2 separate regions of the Homo sapiens genome follow, and region 1 is linked to region 2. Evidence: fine-mapped expression QTL. A gene starts in region 2. The other region holds a variant in brackets. All regions are shown on one strand. Distances are from middle to middle. Region 1 overlaps CELF5 (CUGBP Elav-like family member 5). Region 2 holds the start of ZNF555 (zinc finger protein 555).

The links.
Region 1: its variant is fine-mapped to the expression of ZNF555 in cerebellar hemisphere (GTEx, PIP 0.97).

What each region holds. Positions count from the first base shown.
Region 1 is chr19:3,274,293-3,285,805 of GRCh38, forward strand. CELF5 (CUGBP Elav-like family member 5) reads left to right here. Exons shown (of 13, transcript NM_021938.4): 4 at 1,564-1,692; 5 at 3,739-3,818; 6 at 6,907-7,053; 7 at 7,834-7,975; 8 at 8,060-8,206; 9 at 10,610-10,672. Among named protein-coding and RNA genes, the nearest start is that of CELF5, 55 kb to the left of the region's middle. RefSeq lists silencers at 1,351-1,480, 1,711-2,010. The variant G/A (reference allele first, on the strand shown) is at 5,707.
Region 2 is chr19:2,836,469-2,847,981 of GRCh38, forward strand. It overlaps ZNF555 (zinc finger protein 555), which reads left to right and starts at 5,007. Exons shown (of 4, transcript NM_152791.5): 1 at 5,007-5,107. The coding sequence starts at 5,105. ZNF554 (zinc finger protein 554) reads left to right here. Exons shown (of 5, transcript NM_001102651.2): 5 at 1-267. RefSeq lists silencers at 4,468-4,577, 4,588-4,777, 4,998-5,297, 5,338-5,387.

The DNA of each region.
Region 1 (11,513 bases), 440 kb after region 2:
TCCGTGTGGAAATGTGTGTGTTTATGTGTGCATGCTTAAATGTGTGTGTATATGACTGTGCACACCTGGCATGCCTGTGTGCAGATGTGTGTGAGTACGTGCACATGTGCATTTGTGTTTCTGCAGCTGGTGCACATAAGCGCACATGTGTGGTATGCAGTGGGGATGCCTTCCTGCCTGTGTGCATGTGCGTGTGCCCAGCCCGCGCATGGGTGTGTGTGTTTGCACATGTGTGCCTGACTGTTGGAGGCTGGGCATGTGGGCAGACATGCAGGCTGGGGCCAGTGTTGTCTGTGTGGGGCTGGACCTTGGTGTCAGGGTGTGCCCATGGTGGGGGCATACTCAGCTGTTCCCATGGGACCCAAATCTAGTCATTCTTGGAAATTTGTATATTTCCTCTCCATCTCAAGTGGAGACTGAAGGAGGGCAGCCAGATTTGGTTGAGTGGAGGCATGGAGCAGGAGTGTTAGGATACCTAGGTATATGTAGGAGTCCGGTAAAGGCCCTCTGGGATGGGAGCCCCTTTCACACTCTCCACCCTGGCTGCCAGCGTGGGACAGGGAGTAGCGAGGTGGGGTCTGTATGTCTCCATTTTTGTCTCTATTTCTCTGTCTCTCTCTCCATCTCCCTCTGTATCTCCTTCTCCTTTTTCTCTTCTCTTGTCTCTTCATCCCTCTTATTCTCTCTGTCTCTCACAGTCTCTTTCGCGCGCACTCTCTCTCTGATCTGTCTCTCTCTCTCCCTGATTCTCAGTCTCTCTGCTGGTTTCTCTCTCTCCCTCCCACCCCCATGAGTGACAGCTGCCGAGAGCGGTTTCCATAGTAACCCAGCTCACCGTCCCTAGGAGATGAAGCCACCACGTTCCCCATTACCAGGGAGCATGCAGTTACCCAAGGGGGCAGAGCTCACACAGGAGAGGCTGGCCCAGCTCCGGCCTCAGACCAGGTTCCAGCCCAGCCCCACCCAGCAGGGGGTCCAGCCTGCCAAGGCCCCTGGTCCACTGAGCACGTGAACCCTCACTCCACTCCACAGATGGTGACTGCCTGGCCCCTCTTGATCCCGACAAAGTTGGGCAGGGGCCTCTGCTGGGCACCGTGAAAGTGCGGGGACCATCAGTGCCCACCTCCGCCTGGCAGGTCCGGGGAGCAGACAGAAAGACAGACAGACAGACAGACAGGGACCCAGGCCCGGCGAGGCAGCTCCTAGCCCTAGTACTCGGTGCGGGCTCTCTGAGTGCACCAGAGGGAAAGGTCATCTCCGCCTGGAGGGGGAGCAGTGGAGCAGAGACCCCAAAAGACTGCAGGGAGGGCATTCCAGGCGGGGGCGCCACCTGGGCAAAGGCCGGGAGATGGGAGCGTGCAGGGCCCGTGGGAGGGTGGAGAGATCCGGGGCAGGGAAAGGGCGCGGCTGGGTCCTCCCTCGCACGCGCAGAACCGGAGCCGGCAGGGCCCGGGCGCCGCGTCTTCCTGCCCTGCCGCCTCCACTCTGCTGGAGGGAGGGAGGAATCCCGGAGGCCCTCCCGGAGGCCGGGGACTCGGCTGAGGTGGGTGTCGCCGCCCACAGGGGACCGGAAGCTGTTCGTGGGGATGCTGAACAAGCAGCAGTCGGAGGAGGACGTGCTGCGGCTGTTCCAGCCCTTCGGGGTCATTGACGAGTGCACCGTGCTCCGGGGGCCTGACGGCAGCAGCAAAGGTGACTGGCGGGGGCCGGGGCGGGACTGCGAGAGGGGCCGGGCTAGCTCTGGGGGCGGGGCCTGTGGGGAGGGTGGGGCCTGCAGCATGGGGAGGAGCTGGCTCTGGGGTGGGACCCTGGGGAGGGGCGGGGCTTCTCCAGGGGTGGAGTCTGTGGGTGAGGCTGCAGGGGCGGGGCCTTGGAGAGGGGCGGAATTGCAGGGGCGGGGCCTGGGGAGGGGATGGGGCTGCAGGGTGGGGAGGAGCTGCCTCTGAGGGCGGGGCCTGTGGGGCAGGGCCCTGGGGAGGGGTGGGGCTTCTCCAAAGGTGGGCCCTTGGGGAGAGGTGTGGCTGCAGGGGTGGGGAGGAGCTGGCTCTGAGGATGTAGCCCTGGAGAGGCCCGAGGCTTCTCCAGAGCTGAAGTCTGTGGGTGAGGCTGCAAGGGTGGGGTCTTGGGTAGGGGAGGTACTGCAGGGAGGGGTGAAATACGTAGAGTTAGGAGGGACTGGCTCCAGGGGGAGAGGCCCTGGGAAGGGTCGGGGCTGAGCATATAGGGGGTGGGGCTGGCCAGGTGGGGCGGGGCCAGGCCAATAGGAGGCTGGGGCTGGCTGGGAGAAGCTGGTTCACAGGGGTTGGGTGGAGCAGAGACTGGTCCCGCTTGATCCTACCTGCATGCTCTCTCTGCATGCTGGCTGTGGGGACGGGCCCTGAAGAGGGGCGGGGCTGCGGTGGGGTGGGCGGAGATGCAGAGGCGTGGCCTTGGGGAAGGGCAAGGCTTCTCCAGGGGCTGCTTATGGATGGGGATGCAGGGGCAGTACCTTGGGATGAGGCGGTGTCTGGTGGGAGGCGGGGGGGCTTCTCCAGGTGCTGCCTGTGAGTAGGGATGCAGGGGCGTGGCTTGTGATGGGGCGGGGTCTGGGGAGGGGCGGGGCTTCTCCACGGACAGAGTTACCTGTGCCCTGTGGTCTCAGATTCCTCCACCTGACTATTCGTAAAACTGTTTCCTCCTGGTTCTGTCTATGTGATTTGTCCATATGACTGACTGGTGGTCTCTGGTTGTGTCTGTCTGTCTATCTTCCTGCCTGAGAGTCCAAATGACGGTGTCTGGCGGTCTCTGTCCACAGAGCTCATCATGTGGGACCGACTCCACTCTGGTCTTTCTTACCTTACTAGAACTGAATGTGTCTGACGGTTTCAGACCATTACCTGGTTCTTCCTTTTTAAAATTGAGGGCTGGGCGTGGTGGCTCACGCCTGTAATCCCAGCACTTTGGGAGGCTGAGGCAGGTGGATCACGAGATCAGGAGTTCAAGACCAGCCTGGCCAAGATGGTGAAACCCGTCTCTACAAAAAATACAAAAATTAGCTGGGCGTGGTGGCAGGCGCCTGTAATCCCAACTACTCGGGAGGTTGAGGAAGAGCATTGCTTGAACCCGGGAGGCAGATGTTGCAGTGAGCCGAGATCACGCCACTGCACTCTAGCCTGGGTGACGGAGCAAGACTCTGACTCAAAAAAAGAAAAAAATTGAGATGTCTTCCACATCCTACCAAATTCACCCTTTAAAAATGTACAATGAAGTGCTTTTTTTTTCTATTCATAAAACCGTGCAACCATCACCACTATGTAATTCCAGAACATTCCACCCCCTCCCTCCACAATATGGCTGGCCCTTCCATAGTACTCTACCAGTCTGGAGCCAGGTGCAGTGGCCTCTGTATGTTCTATGGACTTTGTCGGTGGGACTGTGTTTCCATTCACCTGTGTCTGGTGGTCTCTGTGTGTGTGGCTGTCTGTCTGCATTAGCCTGGCTGGCTGTGTGGGTGACCAGGTCTTTGTCTAACTGTGGCTGTCTGTCTGTGTGATTCTCCTCCATTCTGACCCTTGATCTGGCTGATTGTCCAGCTGTCCGTCTGAGCAAACGGCTGGCTGTCTTTCTGTTATCAGTTCTCTCTGGCTGCATGTGTCTGACACTGGCCATGTAGGTCTCTGTGTCCCCTCTCCTGTGGCCCCCGCTCAGCCAGTCCTGTGACCCCATCACCCTCTACCTCTTCTTCTTCTCTTGGAGCAGGCTGTGCTTTCGTGAAGTTCTCCTCCCACACGGAGGCGCAGGCGGCCATCCACGCCTTGCATGGGAGCCAGACCATGCCGGTGAGTTGGAGCTGCCCTTGGCCGTGGGGGTGGGGGTGGGAAAGGGGTGAGGGGGACAGGGATGAAACAGGCCATATTCCTACCGTCGCTGTCATCCGGTAGCCCCTGGCTGTCCTTCAGAGGGGGCACAGGTGGAGAAAGAGGCGCAGTCCCTGGCTGTGGTCCCTGGAGTGGGTATACACGTGTGAGTGTGTGCAGATGTGGAGGTGAGTAGGCAAGCGAAGTGTATGTGTGTGCATGGATGTATTACAAGTGTGTGCGTGTGGGTGAGTGTGCATGTCTGGGTGTGAGTGTGCCCGAGACTGCATGCATGTGTGTGTGTGAGTGCGTGTTTGAGTGTGTCATTACTAGTAGGCGAGTGTTATGTGAGTGCTGTGTGCACGAGGGGTGTGCGTAAATATGTATGGATAAGTGTGCCATTGTGTGCTAGTGTAGAGATACTAGTGCGTGTGCGTGTATGAGAGTGTACATGTGTGTTTCTATGTGTGTGAGCGTGTGTGTGAGTATGCCTGGGCCACGGGGGAGGAAGCACATGTGTGTGCATCTGCAGGTGCATTTGTGGGCAGGTTTGTGTGTGTGTGTGTGTGTGTTTGTGTGTGTGCATGACTGTGAGTGTGTCAGTATTGTGGGTGATTGTGTACACGTTTGTGAGTATATGCAGGTCTGTGTGAGTATAGGTTGTGAGTGGGTGAGTGTGTATGTGTGTACATGTAAGGGTATCCTAAGGGGATGACACCTGGGTTGGATTTGCTGAGGCCAGGAGAGGCCCTGACAAAAAGAAAGGCTGGGAGGTGGCAACAGGTAGCCCAGAGGAGCCATAGAAGATGGGGCCGCAATGCGAGGCTGAGAAGCCTGGACTTTCTCCTAGGGCAGTGGGGAGCCACAGACGGTTTAGAGCAAGGGAGGAGACAGGCCAGGTCGGTTGCAAATATCCCTTTGGGGCTAATGTAGAGGATGGGCAGGGTGCAAGACTAGAGGCTGGGAGGCCAAAGAGGAGGCTAGGCCAAGGTCCAGCTGAGGTAGGAGGAGGCCTGAGCTGGGGCCAGGTGGACAGGGAGGAGGGCTGATCAGAAAACAGACATTAGGGTGAGAATGGATGGGGGGCCTGTTGACTCACTGGTTGAGGGAGGGGTGGGGATTGGGGACAGGTCCCAGAGTCTGCAGCAGTGAGAGGCTGGGGAGGACCAAGGAGGCACTGGGGACTGCCCTTCCCCCGAGGAAGGAGTCCCCAGAAGCCATTGTTCCTGCACCCACATCTCCGAATCTGCTACAAGGAAGATGGGACCTGAGAGGAACAAGCCACCTCTCTCAGCTCTTAAAACCCAGGGGAGGGGCTTAGTTCAGCACAAGGGCAAGTGTTCCCAAGCTCAGAGATGTCCCAGGACAGGGCTGGTAGGCGTCTGGAGGAGTGAGTTCTCTATCGGAGGAGGCATGTCAGCGAAGACAGGGAGGCAACAGGGTGCATCCTGTGGGAGCCAGCTCACCAGGGAGGAGCTGGTCGAAGGGGAAGATATTTTCCTTCTTGAGCCCCAGAGTCGGGGTGTGGGCTGGTTTGTGAGGGGTGGGAATGGCCTCCTGGCCCCTGCCTCAGGCCTCTCTTTTATTTTTTTGAGACAGAGTCTCGCTCTGTCGCCCAGGTTGGAGTGCAATGGGGCAATCTCAGCTCACTGCAATCTCCACCTCTCGAGTTCAAGCGATTCTTCTGCCTCAGACTCCCAAGTAGCTGGGATTACAGGCACGCGCCACCACACCTGGCTAAATTTTGTATTTGTAGTAGAGACGGGGTTTCACCATGTTGGTCAGGCTGATCTCGAACTCCTGACCTCAGGTGATCTGCCCACCTTGGCCTCCCAAAGTGCTGGGATTACAGGCATGAGCCACTGTGCCC[G/A]GCCACCAGGCTTCTCTTGTTACCGATATCAGGACCTGTTGCAGCATCCTGACTGCACAGACAGACACTCCCTGGCTCACCGCTGCTTCGACTGCCCAGGGCTGCCTGTTGGTGGATTTCAGCCCAGCCCTGTGGCACCTGGACAGCCATGGAGTGGGATGGCAGTCACATGGGTTTCTGTCTGTGCCCCAGCAAAGCAGGGCCCCCAGTCCCCACCAGTGGCTACTGTCCGCTGTCCACTGGGTGGATGGGCCACAGGTTCATCTGCCTGCAAAGGGCACAAAAATCTGGGGCTGGGGCTGGGCGTGGTGGCTGTAATCCCAGCACTTTGGGAGGTCGAGGCGGGCGGATCACTTGAGGTCAGGAGTTAGAGACCAGCCTGGCCAACATAGTGAAACCCCGTCTCTACTAAAAATAAAAAAAAAAATTAGCTGGGCGTGATGGCGGGCACCTGTAATCCCAGCTACTCAAGAGGCTGAGGCAGGAGAATCACTTGAACCTGGAAGGCAGAGGTTGCAGTGAGCCGAGATCGCGCCATTGCACTCCAGCCTGGGCAACAAGAGCGAAACTCCGTCTCAAAACAAAACAAAAAAAATCCGGGTCCGAACTGCCTGCTAGCTCCAGGGCATGGAGGACAGAGTCAGGATCATCTACTTGTCCCGCCTTGTTCCTCTCCTGTGGCTGGAGTCTCACCTGTTCTCAGGTGTGGGTGAGAATTGGAGGCTCACCCATCTGTGCCCCAGTTGTTCCTCTCTGGAGACTGGAGTTTCAGGTGTGGGGTGACAATGGCAGGTTCGTCCACCTGAGCCCACTGTTTTCCTTCGGAAGCTGGTTTCTCACCTGTTCTCAGGTGAGCGGAAGTCATAGGTGCCTCCAGCTGTGCCTCCCTGTTCTCCAGCGGCGGGATTCTCCATCTGTTTTGAGTGTGTGGCTGACAGTCAGGGCCCCCACCTGTGCCCCATCACAGCCTCCTAGGCCTGGGCGCTGCACCTGTGCAGATGCTGCTGGGCCCAGGATGCTGATCTCCACGCGGTCCTCGCTGTGGCCCTGGCTCCTGGGGTGGGGGCCCGTGGACATGGCTGACAGCCACTGGCATTACACCCCTCACCCAGGAGGCCTGAGCTAACATGAATCCAGGGACCCCAGAGTCCTGGCTACCTCCCAGCCCGTTTCCCTCCCTGCTCGCCGCTGCCCCTGCAGGGAGCCTCCTCCAGCCTGGTGGTCAAGTTCGCCGACACGGACAAGGAGCGGACGCTCCGGCGCATGCAGCAGATGGTGGGCCAGCTGGGCATCCTGACGCCGTCCCTCACATTGCCCTTCAGCCCCTACAGTGCCTACGCCCAGGCTGTGAGTGACCCAGTGACAGCTTCGGGGCTCCGGCTCCGTCTCTCTCAGTCTCTGTCTACTCTCTGTCGGGCTCCTGCCTCTCCCTCCATCTCCCTGACTCAGGGTCCTCTCCTGGCGTGGCTGAACCCCAACTCCAAATTGAGACCAAGCTCAGACCGAGCCCCTAAATCCAGAAGACTGAGCCCTAATCTCACAGTAACACCCAATCTTGGACCGAGCCCCAGAACCTGGCTATGCTCCACGTCTAAATTAGGCCCAATTCTGGCTGAACCTCCAAATCCAGACTGATCCCAAACTGAGACCTGACCTGATCAAGCTCCACCCTGGCTGAGACCTGATCCCAAGTTGAGCCCCAGCTCCTGACTGAACCCTGATCCCAGGCTGAGCCTCAATTTCTAACTAAACCCTCATCCTAGATGGAGCCTTGATCTCAGTCTGAGCCTCACTTCCTAACCGAGCCTTGATCCTAGATTGAGCCTTAGTCCCAGGCTGAGCCTCGCTTTTCTAACTGAGCCCTGATCCTAGGCTGAGCCTTGATCCCAGGCTGAGCCCCAATTCCTGACTAGATTGAGCCCTGATCTCAGCCTGAGCCTCACTTCCGAACCGATCTCTGCTCCCAGGCTGAGCCTTGATCCCAGTCTGAGCTCCAATTCTGATCTCAGCCTGAGCCAAGATACCCAGCCTGACCTCCTCACTAGTAACTGGGGTACCAAGCCTCCCCTCATAAGCCATGATCTCAGGGCAGATATCACCCCAACTGTGACATGTCTTCACCCCCAGCTCATGCAACAGCAGACAACAGTCCTGTCCACCTCGGGCAGCTACCTGAGTCCCGGCGTGGCCTTCTCACCCTGTCACATCCAGCAGATAGGCGCCGTCAGCCTCAACGGGCTGCCTGCCACACCCATCGCTCCTGCCTCTGGTGAGCCTCCTCCAGGCACCCAAGGATGGGTGGGCAGGGCTGGAGCCAGAACTGGCCTCCCCATGACCCTCTTCCGCTCTGCAGGGCTGCACTCACCCCCGCTGCTGGGCACCACCGCTGTGCCTGGCCTCGTGGCTCCCATCACCAATGGCTTTGCAGGTGTCGTGCCCTTTCCAGGTGGGCACCCTGCCCTGGAAACCGTCTATGCCAATGGCCTTGTGCCCTACCCAGGTAAATTGGGGTCGTCCTCTGGGGCCTAGGAGAGTGGTGGGGAATAAAGATGGTGTTTCTGGAACAAGTATGAGTCCCTACATCACAGTGCCCAGGGAACAGAAGGGCAGGAAAAAGGGTGTCTCCGCTGAGCAGATAAGAGCTGTGGACACAGGAAGGGAGGCCGTGGCAGGGTAATAACACATTAAAACGGTGCATCTGGATGTTTCTGAGCTTAAATTCCAGTTCAGTGACCCTGGATGGGCTCTTTACGTCCCTGAGCCTCAGTTTGCTCATCTGGAAAATGGGGCAGATAACATCAGTAGCCTCAGAGGGTTGCATTGACAATTTAATCTGTGTGCAAAAGGCTTCACACAGGGTCTCACTCTGTCGCCCAGGCTGCATTGCAGTGGCACAATCTTGGCTGACTGTAACCTCCGCTTCCCAGGTTCAAGTGATTCTCCTGCCTCAGCCTCCCAAGTAGCTGGGATTACAGGCGCATGCCACCATGCCCGGCTAATTTTTGTAGTTTTAGTAGAGATGGGGTTTCACCATGTTGGCCAGGCTGGTCTCGAACTCCTGACCTCAGGTGATTCACCTACTGCGCCCAGCCCATAAATCTTAATTATTCATCTGTGTCATTTGGGGAGATATCAATGCCTGGATTCATTCATTTATCCATTCAACACAGAATGAATGACCCACTGATTTAGGCTGCACCTGCTTTCATGAAGCAGAGGTCCTTCCTTTCTCTATGCTACACCTACAATTTTAGGGCAAACATCTTCCAACATCTAATTTATGTGAAGTAAGTTATCTGTCTTTCCACCATGTAGGAGAATTTGTTTCTAACTTTTTATTTTTTTAATTATTTTTATTTATTTAGTTTTAGAGACAGTGTCTCACTGTGTCACTCAGGCTGGAGTGCAGTGGTGTCGTCGCAGCTCACTGCCGCCTCCATCTCTGGGGCTTAAGCAATCCTCCCACCTCAGCCTTCCTTGTAGCTGGGACTACAAGCATGTGCCATCACGCCCGGCTAATTTTTAAATTTTTGTACAGACGGGATCTTGCTGTGTTGCCCAGGCTGGCCTCAAATTCCTGGGCTCAAGCAGGCCTCCCAAAGTGCCGGGATTATAGGTGTGAGCCACTGTGACTGGCCTTAACATTTTATTTTGAAATGATTGGAGGTTCACAGGGAGTTACCAAAATACCACAGAGCAGTCCCAGGTACCCTTCACACAGCTTCCCTGATGCCAGCAGCTTATCTAATCATAGGTCACTGTCAAACCCAGGAAACTAACACTGGCACCATACAATTAATTCAACTCCAGACGGTATTCAAATTTCACCATTTATTTATTTAGCGACAGAGTCTCACTCTGTCGCCCAGGCTGGAGTGCAGTGGCGTGATCATAGCTCGCTGCAGCCTTGAACTCTCGAACTCCTGGGCTGAAGCGATCCTCTCACCTCTCACCTCAGCCTCCCAAGTCACTGGGACTACAGGCACGTGCCATTATGCTTGGCTAATTTTCGATTTTATTTTATTTTTTAAGAAATGAGGGTCTTGCTATGTTGCCCAAGCTGGTCTCGAAACTCCTGGGCTCAAGCGATCCTCCTTCCTCGGCCTCCCAAAGTGTTGGGATCACAAGTGTGAGCCACCACACCCAGCTGATTTCACGAGTTTTTGTATGCACTCTGTGCACGTGTGTGTGTGTGTGTGCAGGGGCGGTTAATTGCCATTTTGTCACAGATGCAGACTTGTGGATCTCCCACAGTGAAGATACAGAACTGCTTCTTGCCCACAAAGTGAACTCCTTCCTGCCACCCCTTTGAAGTCACAGTCACCACCACTATCCCCTGCCCTCCAGCACACTCTCCATTCGGGCAGAATTGTTTGGCTGAATTTTTCCCCAGAATCATCAGCTTTGGTGGCCTGGACAACTTCTTCCCTCCCCTACCCCTTTCCCTAGCGGTAGCAGGAAGGCTACAGCTAGATGGGGGAGCTACAGGGTGTCTGATGAGGAAACTCATGTGGAGAGGGAGACGGGGCAGGGGATGGGGGCAGGTGGTGATTTGAGGTGGAGGCTGAAGTCCTGGTGAATCCAGGGAGTAGAGAGGAGTGAAGGGTCCCCCTTGGGAGGCAACCGGGTCGGGATAGGGAGAGGGAGATGGGGACGATGGTGATCTCTCTCTGGAGTCCGAGAAACCCGGATTCCAGTTCAGCTTCTGCCATTTGCTATCTGAGTGGCCCTGTGCAAGTGGCTTCACCTTCCTCGGCCTCAGCTTCCTGGTCCTACAGAGGGTTTAGCACAGAGGAGAAGCTGGGCGGGGTGTTTGTTGCTGTCCTTGCGGCTCTTAAGGATCGGGGGTGGATGGAAGACTTCTGCTGCTCCCGCCCCACTCAGCCCCTCTGTCTGCCCGCAGCTCAGAGCCCGACTGTGGCCGAGACACTGCATCCTGCCTTCTCCGGAGTCCAGCAGTACACAGGTAGGAGGCAGCCCGCGTGCCCGCGCTGGGCCCTGGCCCCGCCCCCGCCTAGGGCCCCGCCCCCAGGGCCCGCCCCGGACGTGTCGTTCTTCTGTGCCTAGCCGCGCCTCCTACCTCTGGCCCCGCCCCTCAGGGCCCACCCTTAGCCCCTTGTCCTGTATTCAACCCCGGGCCCTGTTACTGGTCCCACCCCACCACCACCTATACCCGCAAACAGGACCTTCCCTTGTCCTTTAAGGACAGCGCTTACCCATGGCCTTACCCTCTCATGTTCTGTGTTGGGGAGAGGGAATTCCCCTTGACCACGTCTCTAGCTCTGACCCAACCCCAGCTCTCGGCCCTGCCCCTTACCCTCCCTCCTGCAGCTCCTAGCCCCGCCCCTCACTTCCTGCCTTTACTCTGACCACGCCTCTCTGATAAAGCCCCGCCCCTACCTCTGGCTCTACTTCTTAAGGCCTGGCTGTGACCCCGCCCTCTGCTGCGGCCCCGCCCCTTAACTCATGGTCCTGCCCACATAGCCCTCCATCAAGTCACGGCCCCGCCCCACTCATGCCCTTCATCCCAGTCTTGCCCCCGCCCTCCACTGTGACCCCACCCCTCAAGCAATGGTCCCGCCCACTCTGGACTGTCCTGTAGCCTTGGCCCCGCCCTCTACTGTGGCCCAACCCCTATACCCCTCCCCTCACGCCATGGGGTCCGCCCCCACCCCCCCTTCCCCGCCCCGTCTCGGTATTGGCCCTGCCCTCCACCATGGCCCCGCCCCTCAGGCAATAGCCCCTCCCCGTTTCGTCTGTGATCTTGGCCCCGCCCTCTGGCCTGGCCCCGCCCCCAAACCCTCCCC
Region 2 (11,513 bases):
ATGCTAAGACGGAAAGCGCTTTGGAGGTAAAGTTTAAAAAATACAAGGGCTTCAAAATAGTACTAGTAATTTGATCCATTCACAAAAGGACAAAGGCTGGACAGAGACGTGAAGAAATGAATCATTTACGCAATGATTGGGGTGTTCCAATTATGTGTGATTTTGTGTTTTCTGCCGTTTCATTTTGTATTGCCATAATCATTTTGACAATGAATACAAATCAAATAGCACCCAAAATTGTGAAGGATACGGAACCTCATTGATGAGTCAGGATAGACTGTGGGTACCTAGATGGTAGAGACATAGTATAGTAGACTTTGGGACATAGAGGGTGGAATGACCTTTGGTGGCCTGGGAAAAGTCCCGCCTGTGAGATGTCCCTAGCAAAATCAAGACCAGGAGTGCTGATGTGCATTATCGTCATGAACATGTATTGGATGCTTACTGTATACCAAGCACCAGCCAAGTACTTCCATGTGGTTCTTCATTTAGCCCTCACGACCCCATGAGATAATCACTATTCACATTCCATTTTACAGAAGACAAAACGGAAATAATTTGCTCAAGGTCACACAATTAGAAAGGAGTAGAATCTGGGCTGGGCACAGTGGCTCACACCTGTGATCCCAGCACTTTGAGAGGCTGAGGTGGGTGGATCACTTGAGGTCAGGAGTTCGAGACCAGCCTGGCCAACATGGTGAAGCCCCATGTCTACCAAAAAATACAAAAATTAGGGAGGCCGAGATGGGCGGATCACCTGAGGTCAGGAGTTCGAGACCAGCCTGACCAACATGGAGAAACCGCATCTCTACTAAACATACAAAATTAGCCGGCATGGTGGTGCATGCCCGTAATCCCAGCTACTCGGAGGCTGAGGCAGGAGAATCGCTTGAACCCGGGAGGTGGAGGTTGCTGTGAGCTGGGACAGTACCATTACACTCCAGCTCTGGGCAACAAGAGTGAAACTCTGTCTCAAAAAAAAAAAAAAAAAAAAATCTGGGCGTCGTGGTGCACGCCTCTAGGCCCAGCTATTCAGGAGGCTGTGGCATGAGAATAGCTGATGTTTCAGTGAGCCGAGATGGTGCCATTGCACTCTAGCCTGGGTGACAGTGAGACTCTGTCTCAAAAAAAAAAAAAAAAAGTAGTGGACTCTGGATTTGACCTTGAGCACCCTGTACAAAGCCACACCTCATTTGCCAGGCCACCAAGCAGGGGAACTGTTTTCCAAATGTTCTCTTGGAAAGCTGGGTGTAGTGGCTCACAACTGCAATCCCAGTATTTTGGGAGCCTGAGGTGGGAGGATCACTTGAGCCCAGGTGTTCAAAACCAGCCTGGGCAACATTGACCCTGTCTCTGCAAAAAATACAAACATTAGCCAGGCATGGTGGCTCACGCCTGTAGTCCCAGCTACTCTGGGGGCTGAGGTGGAAGGACCGCTTGAGCCCAGGAGGCTGAGGCTGCAGTGAGCTATGAGCATACCACCGCACTGCAGCCTGAGTGACAAAGCAAGACCCTGTCTCAAAAAAATTTTACAAATTTTCTCTTAGGACTCATCTAACTTTCCTGTGAATGTTCCCTTTTTCCTTGAGCTAATGAGGGAGGTTGCCCGTCAGATCTCCTTTCACCCAAATGGAACATGTTGCTTTTCCTTAGAGATCCTTGATCCATGGTCAGTCTAGACCCTATTGGGTTGATGAGTAAGTTTCTTTAGGGGCTCTGTGAACAACTTTGAGAACAACTTTGTGTGCTGGTGCATTGATGTGTTTTTTGGGGAAAGCATCTGTAACTTCCAGCATATTCTTGAGAAGGGTTGACTTAGAAGTCTCCTGACTGTACTGTTTTCAGTCTTGTTATCTCCCTCCAGCAATTATATTTTATTTTTTGAGATGGAGTCTCACTGTGTTGCCCAGGCAGGAGTGCAATGGTGAGATTTCGGCTCACTGCAACCTCTGCCTCTGGGTTCAAGCGATTCTCCTGCCTCAGCTCCCAAGCAGCTGGGACTACAGGCATGCGCCACCACGCCCGGCTAATTTTTTTTGTATTTTTATTAGAGATGGGGCTTTCACCATGTTGGCCAGGCTGGTCTCAAACTCCTCACCTCAGGTTGTCCACCCACCTCAGCCTCCCAAAGTGCTGGGATTAGAGGCGTGAGCCACCGAGCCCGGGCACACTATTTTTAACTGGAAGCTGCTTTCCTATGTCAGTCCTCTAAACATTAATTTTTATAAAAGTGTGTAAAACCTTCCTAGGAAAGATAAAAATAAATTTTAAAAATTGTTTCTAAATGAAATGTCAATATCAGAATTTGAACAACCACTTAAGCTATGGAGTTTTCTGAAATGAATAACCATTAACTGTGTTTGGTTTTCAGCCCCTGTCTATTAAGTGTATTCAGTGTTTTCAGGCCTATCACAATCGTTTTTCCTTTTTTTAAAAAAAATTGAAGGCTGGGTGTGGTGGCTCACACCTGTAATCCAAGCACTTTGCAAGTCCGAGGCAGGTGGATCACCTGAGGTCAAGAGTTTGAGACCAGCCTGGCCAACATGGTGAAACCTCATCTCTACTAAAAAAATAAAAATTAGTAGGCCAGGCGTGGTGGCTCACACCTGTAATCCCAGCACTTTGGGAGGCCGAGGCGGGTGGATCACATAAGGTTGGGAGTTCGAGACCAGCCCGACCACCACGGAGAAACCCCGTCTCTACTAAAAATACAAAATTAGCCAGGCATGATGGCAGGTGCCTGTAGTCCCAGCTACTCGGGAAGCTGAACCAGGAGAATCGCTTGAACCTGGGAGGCAGAGGTTGCAGTGAGCCGAGATCTCGCCATTGCACTCCAGCCTGGGCAACAAGAGCGAAACTGCGTCTCAAAAAAACAAAAAACAAAAAAATTAGCTGGGTGTGGCGGGGCAGGTCTGTAGTCTCACCTACTCGGAAGGCTGAGGTACGATAATCACTTGAACCCGGGAGGTGGAGTTTACAGTGAGTCGGGATCCTGCCATTGCACTCCAGCCTGGGTGACAGAGCAAGACTGAAAAAACCAAAAATTTAAAAAAAAAACACTTCCCTCCTAAGGTTCAATCCAATTCATTTAAACTTTTGCGTGTTTTTCTTATATCAGTTAAAATAGGGATTCAATATCCTTAGAAATATAGCCTTTTCTGTTTTAAATATAACATCTAAAAATTGTAGTAAAATACAAATAACAAATATTTACCATGTTCATCATTTTTAAGTCTAAAGTTCAGTGGCGTTAGATACGTTCCTGTTGTGCAATATTATAGACTTCCTTTTTTTTTTTTTTTTTTTTTTGAGACGGAGTCTTGCTGTGTCCCCCAGGCTGGAGTGCAGTGGAATGATCTTGACTCACTGCAACCTCTGCCTCCCTGGGTTCAAGCGATTCTTTTTGTTTTTGTTGTTGTTGTTTGTTTGTTTGTTTGTTTTTGAGACGGAGTCTCGCTTTGTCACCCAGGCTGGAGTGGTGGAGTGCAGTGGCGCGATCTCGGCTCACTGCAACCTCTGCCTCCCGGGTTCACGCCATTCTCCCGCCTCAGCCTCCCGAGTAGCTGGGACTACAGGCACCCGCCACCAGGCCTGGCTAATTTTTTTGTATTTTTTAGTAGAGACGGGGTTTCACCGTGTTAGCCAGGATGGTCTCGATCTCCTGACCTCGTGATCCGCCCGCCTCGGCCTCCCAAAGTGCTGGGATTACAGGCGTGAGCCACCGTGCCCGGCCTCAAGCGATTCTCTTGCCTCAGCCTCCCTAGCTGGGATTACAGGTGCGCGCCACCACGCCCGGCTAATTTTGTATTTTTAGTAGAGACAGGGTTTTGCCATGTTGGGCAGGCTGGTCTTGAACTCCTGACCTCAGGTGATCCGCCCGCCTCGGCCTCCCAAAGTGCTGGGATTACAGGCGTGAGCCACAGCGCCCGGCCAGCTTTTCAATCTTCCAAATTTTGGGGGGATGTACTTAAAAAAATGATCTGAAAACATTTTCCTTAGAGTTTAAAATATGAACTTGAGAGTTTTTTTGTTTTTTAATATGGAGTCTCACTCTGTCGCCCAGGCTAGACTGCAGTGGGGCGATCTCGGGTCACTACAACCTCCACCTCTCGGGTTCAAGCAATTCTCCTGCCCCAGCATCCCCAGTAGCTGAGATTACAGGCGCCCGGCACCACGCCGGGCTGATTTCTGTATTTTTAGTAGAGAAAGGGTTTCACCATATTGGCCACGATGGTCTCAAACTCCTGAACTCAGATGATCCGTCCACCTCGGTCTCCCAAAGTGCTGGGATTACAGGCGTGAGCCACTGCGCCCAGCCAAATGTGAGGGTTTTAATGAACATCTCATATCTTCTGGTTGATTTGAGCAAAGCTCCTGCCCCCTGCCAGGCTTTGGGTTCGGCCTCCCCCAGACCGGGTCTCCGGATTCGCAGCCCCCTGGGCGGGGTCTCCATGTCGCCCGCAGCGCGATGACGTCACGTCTGCGGGTCCCGCCCCCACGTAGGTCTCGGCCCTTCGGACCCGGCGCCCAGCCCCCGTTCGCCCTGCCAGGCCCGGGCCGCCCGCTTGCATCCACCTCCTGTCCGGACAAGGGGTCGCCTCGTGAGGAAACTAGTCTGGAGTTCCCACGCCCGTCCCGGAGGAGGACGCGGGCGGGGCGCCCGAACTGCGGGGAGAGGGCGATTCCGCCCCGGGCTGAAACCAGTTCGCCCAGAAGCCAGTGTCCCCGCAGGGCGGGACAGCCACGCGTGTTCGCAACGCTCCCGTCACTCACCGGCAGGGGGTGGGCCCTAGGGAACTACCCAGTCAGGACGGGCGGGGGCGGGGCCGAGACAAGTATCCAATGAGGGACGCCCAATCGGAATCCGGGGAACTGCCCAATTTACAGCGCCAGGGGACGGACTGGGGAATTCTCCAATCAGAGTCGCCGACGTTGGCAGCACTGTCCAATCAGAAGCGCGGCTTCCCGAGCTCTGTCTAATCAGGCCCCTGGGACGGGACGCCTCTGTCCTAGCCGTGAGTGCCCCGCCTGCCCCTAGCGGTCCCTGGCGTCCCGGTTCCTGTCGCGCTCACCTGCGCCGGTAGCGAAGAAATCGCCCCGGGACATGGTGAGTGTGGCGCAGGAGAGGATCCCGGTGCGGGGCAGCAGGAACCGGCGACCGCCCGAGACCGCGGCTTGGGGGGAGCTGAGGGACGCGGGGGGCGGCCCCGGCGAGGGCGGCGCAGGACGGGAGCCTGGGCCCCGGGGGTCCCGCCCGGCCCCGCCTCCCGCGCTGAGGTCGCGGCTAGGGCGCTCCGAGCTCCGGGTCCCCGCCCGCCTCTGGCCCCAAGGCTGCAGAGCGGGGAGCGGCGCCCGGAGCCCGACTCCGTCCCCGTCGTCCCGGGGTCCCCGCGTCCCTGCGCTCCCGACCCCCCACGCCCCGCCCGGGGCCGCGACGCCTCGGAGCGTTTCGCTGCGGCTTCGGGACCCCCGGGCCGCGGGAGGCAGAGTCGCCCGAGACCCCGAGGTGCGGTCCAGGCTCCCCCGGGACCCGCCCTGGGGCCGACGCCGCGGTGCCTCCTGGGGTGCGGGTCCCTGGTCGGTGCCGCCTCCGCTCGCGCTCCCGCGGCTCAGCTCCTTGGAGGCCCCGCGCCTCCGGCCGCGGTCTCTGGGGGACCCTGGGTTCCTCCCGGGACAGCCCGGGAGCGGTGGGGCCTCGGCGGGGGCGGAGACGCCCCCACCTGCAAAGGCAGCCCCTGGGGCGTGCGAGGTTTCCTCCCCTGAGTCCCGGTTTTCCTTCTTGAGGACTTCTTGTCCCCTCTGACCCCAAGATGCCTGGGGTAGGTAAGGGGAAAAAAAACAAGGGTTCCTGGTCCCTGGGCTCTCACACACAAGGAAGAAAAGTAACTGAAAAGACTAGAGAAACAAGGGAGAGCGAGGACCCCAAAAGCAAACGCACGCAGACCCACAGCGGGGACGCCCGGGAGGCTGGTGCATTAGTGTCCTCGGACTGCTGTAGCAACTGACTGCAAACGAGGGGGCTAAAACCACGGAAATATATTCTTTCACGGTTCCCTAGAAAGTGTGGATTTGAAGACGTTTCTCAGTTCTGTTTTGAGTACTAGCAATGGGATTCCTTGCTGAGGCAACACCTGAGTTGGGGGTGGGAGGGCGTCCGTCGTGGTAGCCTGGCCAGACTTGACCCCTCCCTGGGTTTGTCACTGTGAAAAGATTTTCCTTTTTTCGAGTCAGCAGTTTTTAGGAAGTGAAACGTACATTTAATTAGTAGAAGTTGGAAGATAAAATATTTCCAGGCCGGGCGCGGTGGCTCAAGCCTGTCATCCCAGCACTGTGACAGGCCGAGGGGAGCAGATTACTTGAGGTCAGGAGTTGGGGACCAGCCTGGCCAACATGGAGAAACCCCGTCTCTGCTAGAAATACAAAAATTAGCTGGGCGTGGTGGCGGGTGCCTGTAGTCCCAGCTACTCGGGAGGCTGAGGCGGGAAAATCACTTGAACGCAGAAGGCGGAGGTTGCGGTGAGCTGAGAACGCGCCATTGCACTCCAGCCTGGGTGACAGAGCGAGACTCCGTCTCAAAAAAAAAAAAAAACTTCCAACGGGGTGAATTTCAGGAAAAAAATTAAAATCTGTGTCTTACATTCCATTTGTTAAACATTCCCTGGAGTGTGTGTCGTTTCTCAGATCTGTTATTTTCTGTTTTCTTTTATTACTATTATTTTTTTGGGAGCTCTGTTGCCCATGCTGGAGTGCACTGGTGCGATCACAGCTCACTGCAGCCTCCACCTCCTGGGCTCAAGCAATCTTCCTGCCTCAGCCTTCTGAACACAGGGACTCCAGGTGTGTGCCGCCATGCCTAAGCTTTTGTATTTTTTTGTTTCTAGGGATGGGGTCTCATTCTGTTACCCAGGCTGGTCTCGAACTCCTGAGCTCAGGTGATTCTCCCTCCTCGACCAGCCTTGTTCTTTTCTTTTGAATGACAATAAATAGGATTCCAGGGCCTAAACTTCAAAATGTTACTGGGGAGAAGAGTCTCAGAGAAACAGAGAAAATCTCCTTTCCACCATACGTGCAGAAAAATGAATACATTGCCACGAAACATGTTGCAGATAAATTATACAAATTTACCAAAATATGTTATTCTCCTTGACATGGTAGAGAATTTTTGACGGTGGATGATTCTGTTCTGCTTCCAATACTGCAGTACCCTTACCTTAATTCTATAATACATTTTTTGTTGTTCCTGAAATAGGTAGAATACAAGATATTTTTCTTGTTTAGATGACAATTTGTCCCAGCTCCTTATATTAAAGTGTTTATCCTCTGCAATGCCGGCCCTGGCACTGATCAGATTTCCCCGAACACAGGGGCTGCCTCAGGGCTGTGTCCCTTTACTTTGTTTTTTTGTTTTGTTTTGTTTTGAGACAGGGTCTCGCTCTATTGCCCAGGCTAGAATGCAGTGGTGCTGTCTCGGCTCATTGCAATCTCTGCCTACTGGGTTCAAGTGATTCTCCTGCCTCAGCCTCTAAAGTAGCTGGGACTGTAGGCACCTGCTACCATGCCTGCCTAATCTATCTTTCTTTTCTTTTCTTTTTTTTCTTTCTCCCTCTTTCCTTTCTCTCTCTCTCTTTTCTTTTTTTTTTTTTTTTTTTTAAAGAGGGAGTTTCACCCTTTTCGCCCAGGCTGGAGTGCAGTGGCAGGAACTTGGCTCACTGCAATCTCTGCCTCCTGTGTTCAAGCAATTCTCCTGCCTCAGCCTCCTGAGTAGCTGGGATTACAGGCATCCGCCACCACGCCCAGCTAATTTTTGTATTTTTAGTAGAAATGGGCTTTCACCACATTGGCCAGGCTGGTCTCGAACTCCTGACCTCAGTTGATCTGCCCGCCTCAGCCTCCCAAAGTGCTGGGATTACAGGCGGGAGCCACTGCACCTGGCCATTTTTATGTATTTCTAGCAGATACAGGGTTTTGCCATGTTGGCCAGGCTGGTCTCGAACTCCTGACCTCAGGTGGCCCGCCCGCCTCAGCCTCCCCGAGTGCTGGAATTATAGGTGTGAACCACCATGCCCCCAACCAGGGTGTTTTAAAATTGGCGGCTGGTCACAGAGGTCCCCTGTGCCTGGCTGTGCCAAGATTTCAGACACCCAGGAGGAAAGCAGATCTTTAGGGTAAACACATTGTTGCATAAACAGTTTCAGCACAATAAGCAACTCCTCTATTGGGATGAGAACCCTCCCCAAATCCAGGCTAGCTTATGCCAGCCAAGGGCCAACTTTGCAGGCAGGACTTTCTAAGGTTAGGGGCCCTCAGGCCTTTGGGTTGGCTCTTCCTGCGTCCACCCCCTAGCCCACTGCACAGGTGTCTCTACCACAGAATTATTATGGGAGGCCCCTATGAAGTAGGAGGAGACCACACTGCAGTAATGATTTCACTTGTGCTGTTTAGGGCTCCTGGACTTAGCCAGGTAAGGTAAATTCCATTGGCTGCAATGGAATCATTATTTTTTTAATTTCCATTTTTATTTCAGATTCATGGGCACATGTGCAGGTTACAAGGGAATATTGCATGATGCTGAGATTTGGGCTTCCATTGAGCTTGTCACCCAGATAGTGGACATGGTAGCCATGAGGAAGGGTGTCAGCCCTTTCCCCCTCTGTCCCTCCATTTGGAATCCCCAGCGTCTATTGTTTCCAGTTTTATGTCCATGTCTACCCAAGATTTACTTCCCACTTATAAGTAAGAACATGCCATATTTGGTTTTCTGTTTCTGCATGAGTTTGCTGAGGATAATGGCCTCCAGCTGCATCCATGTTGCTGCAAAGGACATGATTTCGTTCTTTTTTATGGCTGTGTAGTATTCCATGGTATAGATGGACCACATTTTCTTTAGTGCACTGTCTTTGGTCACCTAGGTTGATTCCATGTCTTTGCTATTGTGAATGCTGCTGCAGTGAACACACAAGTGATGTGTTTTTTGGTAGAATGATTTCTTTTCCTTTGGGTAGATGCCCAGTAGTGGGATTGCTGGGTTGAATGGTGGTTCTGTTTTTAGTTCTTTGAGAAATCTCCATACTGCTTTTCATAGAGGTTGTACTAACTTACATTCCCTCCAACCATGTGTAAGCATTCCCTTTCACAGCCCTGCCAACATCTGTTATTTTTTAGCTTTTTAATAACAGCCATTCTGACGGGTGTGAGATGGTATCTCATCGTGCTTTTTATTTGCATTTCTCTGATGATTAGTGGTGTTGAGCATTTTTTCATATGCTTGGACCACAAAGGTCTTAGAAAGCCAGGTGGCTTATTAAGTTTCTGTAGTATTCTCTTCCTTCCCCCGTTACTATTTTTTTACTGGAGAGAGGCACCAATTCCTGCACAGCATAACTCTGGCCAGTAAGTCAAACTTAGACCTGGGTGTCTTCCAGGGACAAGGCAGTGCCCTGAGTGCCAGGGTAAGTACAAAACAAGTCCAACCCCCTAGGGGACAGGTAGTCAGTCCCCTTGGAAGCACATTGTTTGCAATGGTCGGGACACCCCAAGCAGGACTTAACATTGGTCAGGCAGTCGGGTTAGCAGGGCTCCCAGTGTGACCTCCCACTGTGGGCCTCCTGTCCTAGGGTTCTCAGTGTAGACCGAATAATTCAGTTTAGTCCTCAGTTTCAGAGGCTCTGCCTGAGGCATCATTTTCAAGCAGTTTTGCATGTCTGTGATACCAGTTCATTGACCTCTCCAGTATGGACGACACCTGGAGATGTCCTTTGTGGGAAGTTCAGGAACTGGGGCCACTTGCTGCTGTCTCAGGGTTGTCGGATGTGATCAGAGGCTTAGCAGCCAACCTGAATTCAGAGCACTCACAGCTGCATGCAACACTTCCTTCAGGAAGAGGGGAGCGCTTCGGTCACAGCTCTGAATCAGACAGTTCCATCCAAGGTCAAGCCAGTCCTTCACTGTGGGCAACTGAGTGAGCCACATGGACCAGCCAGCACCCCTGATGTTTTTCGTAGTTCAGGGCCTTACCCGGGAGTGTCTAACTCTGCAGTGTTTCCTGAATTAGAGTCCTGTTCATTGAGCCTAGCCCTGCTGTCAGGTCAGCATAGTGAAGGCTGAGTTAGCAGTGGACATAGTGAGGATGAATTAGCAGTGGGCAGTGTCAGGTTTTAGCTTACAGTCAAGTCCACGCCGTTGGGATCTGAGTTCAGAATTCCATAAAACACCGAAGGCTTTGCTTCTGCAGCAGTAAAGCTAGGTATTGCCGGGTTGGACAGCTGTGTTCCAAGATCAAGTTGCAAGCAAGAGTTTCCTAAGCGCTTTTGGTCTCGTGAATCTTAGAGTCCAAATTGACAGTTAAAAATATGCACATGTGGTTTGAAAACCATCAACTCTTGAGGTTGTCAGAAATAGGTTTTCATAAGAGCGCATTAACAAACTAGAAACTACTACTTCACATTCCAAAAGTGTATCTCCACTTAGAGATTGCCTCTCTTTTCATTTGTTTCCCTTTTCCCTGAACCTCCAATAGGAAAAATGATAGTAAAAAATCAGTTGTGGAGACCTAATCTTAATACTTAGAGTTTAAATTCCAATCCATACACCAGGGGCAAAGAGCAAAGAAGTTGTGTCTGTCACTTAAAAAAACAAAACAAAAAACTGATTGAGATGATCCCTGTAGTGCTTTTAAAGTGACAAATATTTTACCATTTTCTCTCATTTTTATCACACATGCCGATGCGGTAGTATTCCTCGTCTCTTAGAGCTTCTGGTAGCCCCAAGTGTTCCTTTGCTTGTGGCACCATAATTCAGTCTCTCCCTCCATCTTCCACGTGGCCACCTTCCGTGTGTGTTTCTGTCTTCATGTGACATTTTCCTCTTATAAAGACACCAGTCAGCGGAGGGGGGAGGGATAGCATTTGGAGATATACCTAATGTTAAATAACGAGTTACTGGGTACAGCACACCAACATGGCACATGTATGCGTATGTAACTAACCTGCACATTGTGCACATGTACCCTAAAACTTAAAGTATAATAAAATGGTTAAGATGGTAAATTGTATGCTATATGTATTTACCACAGTTAAAAAATTGGAGAAAAAATCCTTGGAATATAGTAGATGCAGGTTCAAATCCTGCCTTCAGCATTTATTAGCTGAACTGATGCTAATAAAGTTACTTAATCTGAAAAAAATTTAAAAAAAATAAAAAATAAAGACACTAGTCATATTGGAGTAGGGCCCATTGGATTAGATGATGTCATTTTACTTGATTACATCTGCAAGGATCCTATTTACAAATAAGGTTATAGTCACAGGTACCAGGAATTAGGACACGGACATATCTTTCTGGGGGACCACGTCACAAGAAACCGCTGGCAGTTCAGCATTTACAGGGATAGCATTATGCTAGCAGGGAAGACCATGGCTGGTCAGGAGGTAAACCAAGGGGAAGCAGGGAACACTCCAGCCTTTTTTTTAACCAGCAACAGGTTTTAAAAAAGCACGGAGTGTCCCCTGCCTCCC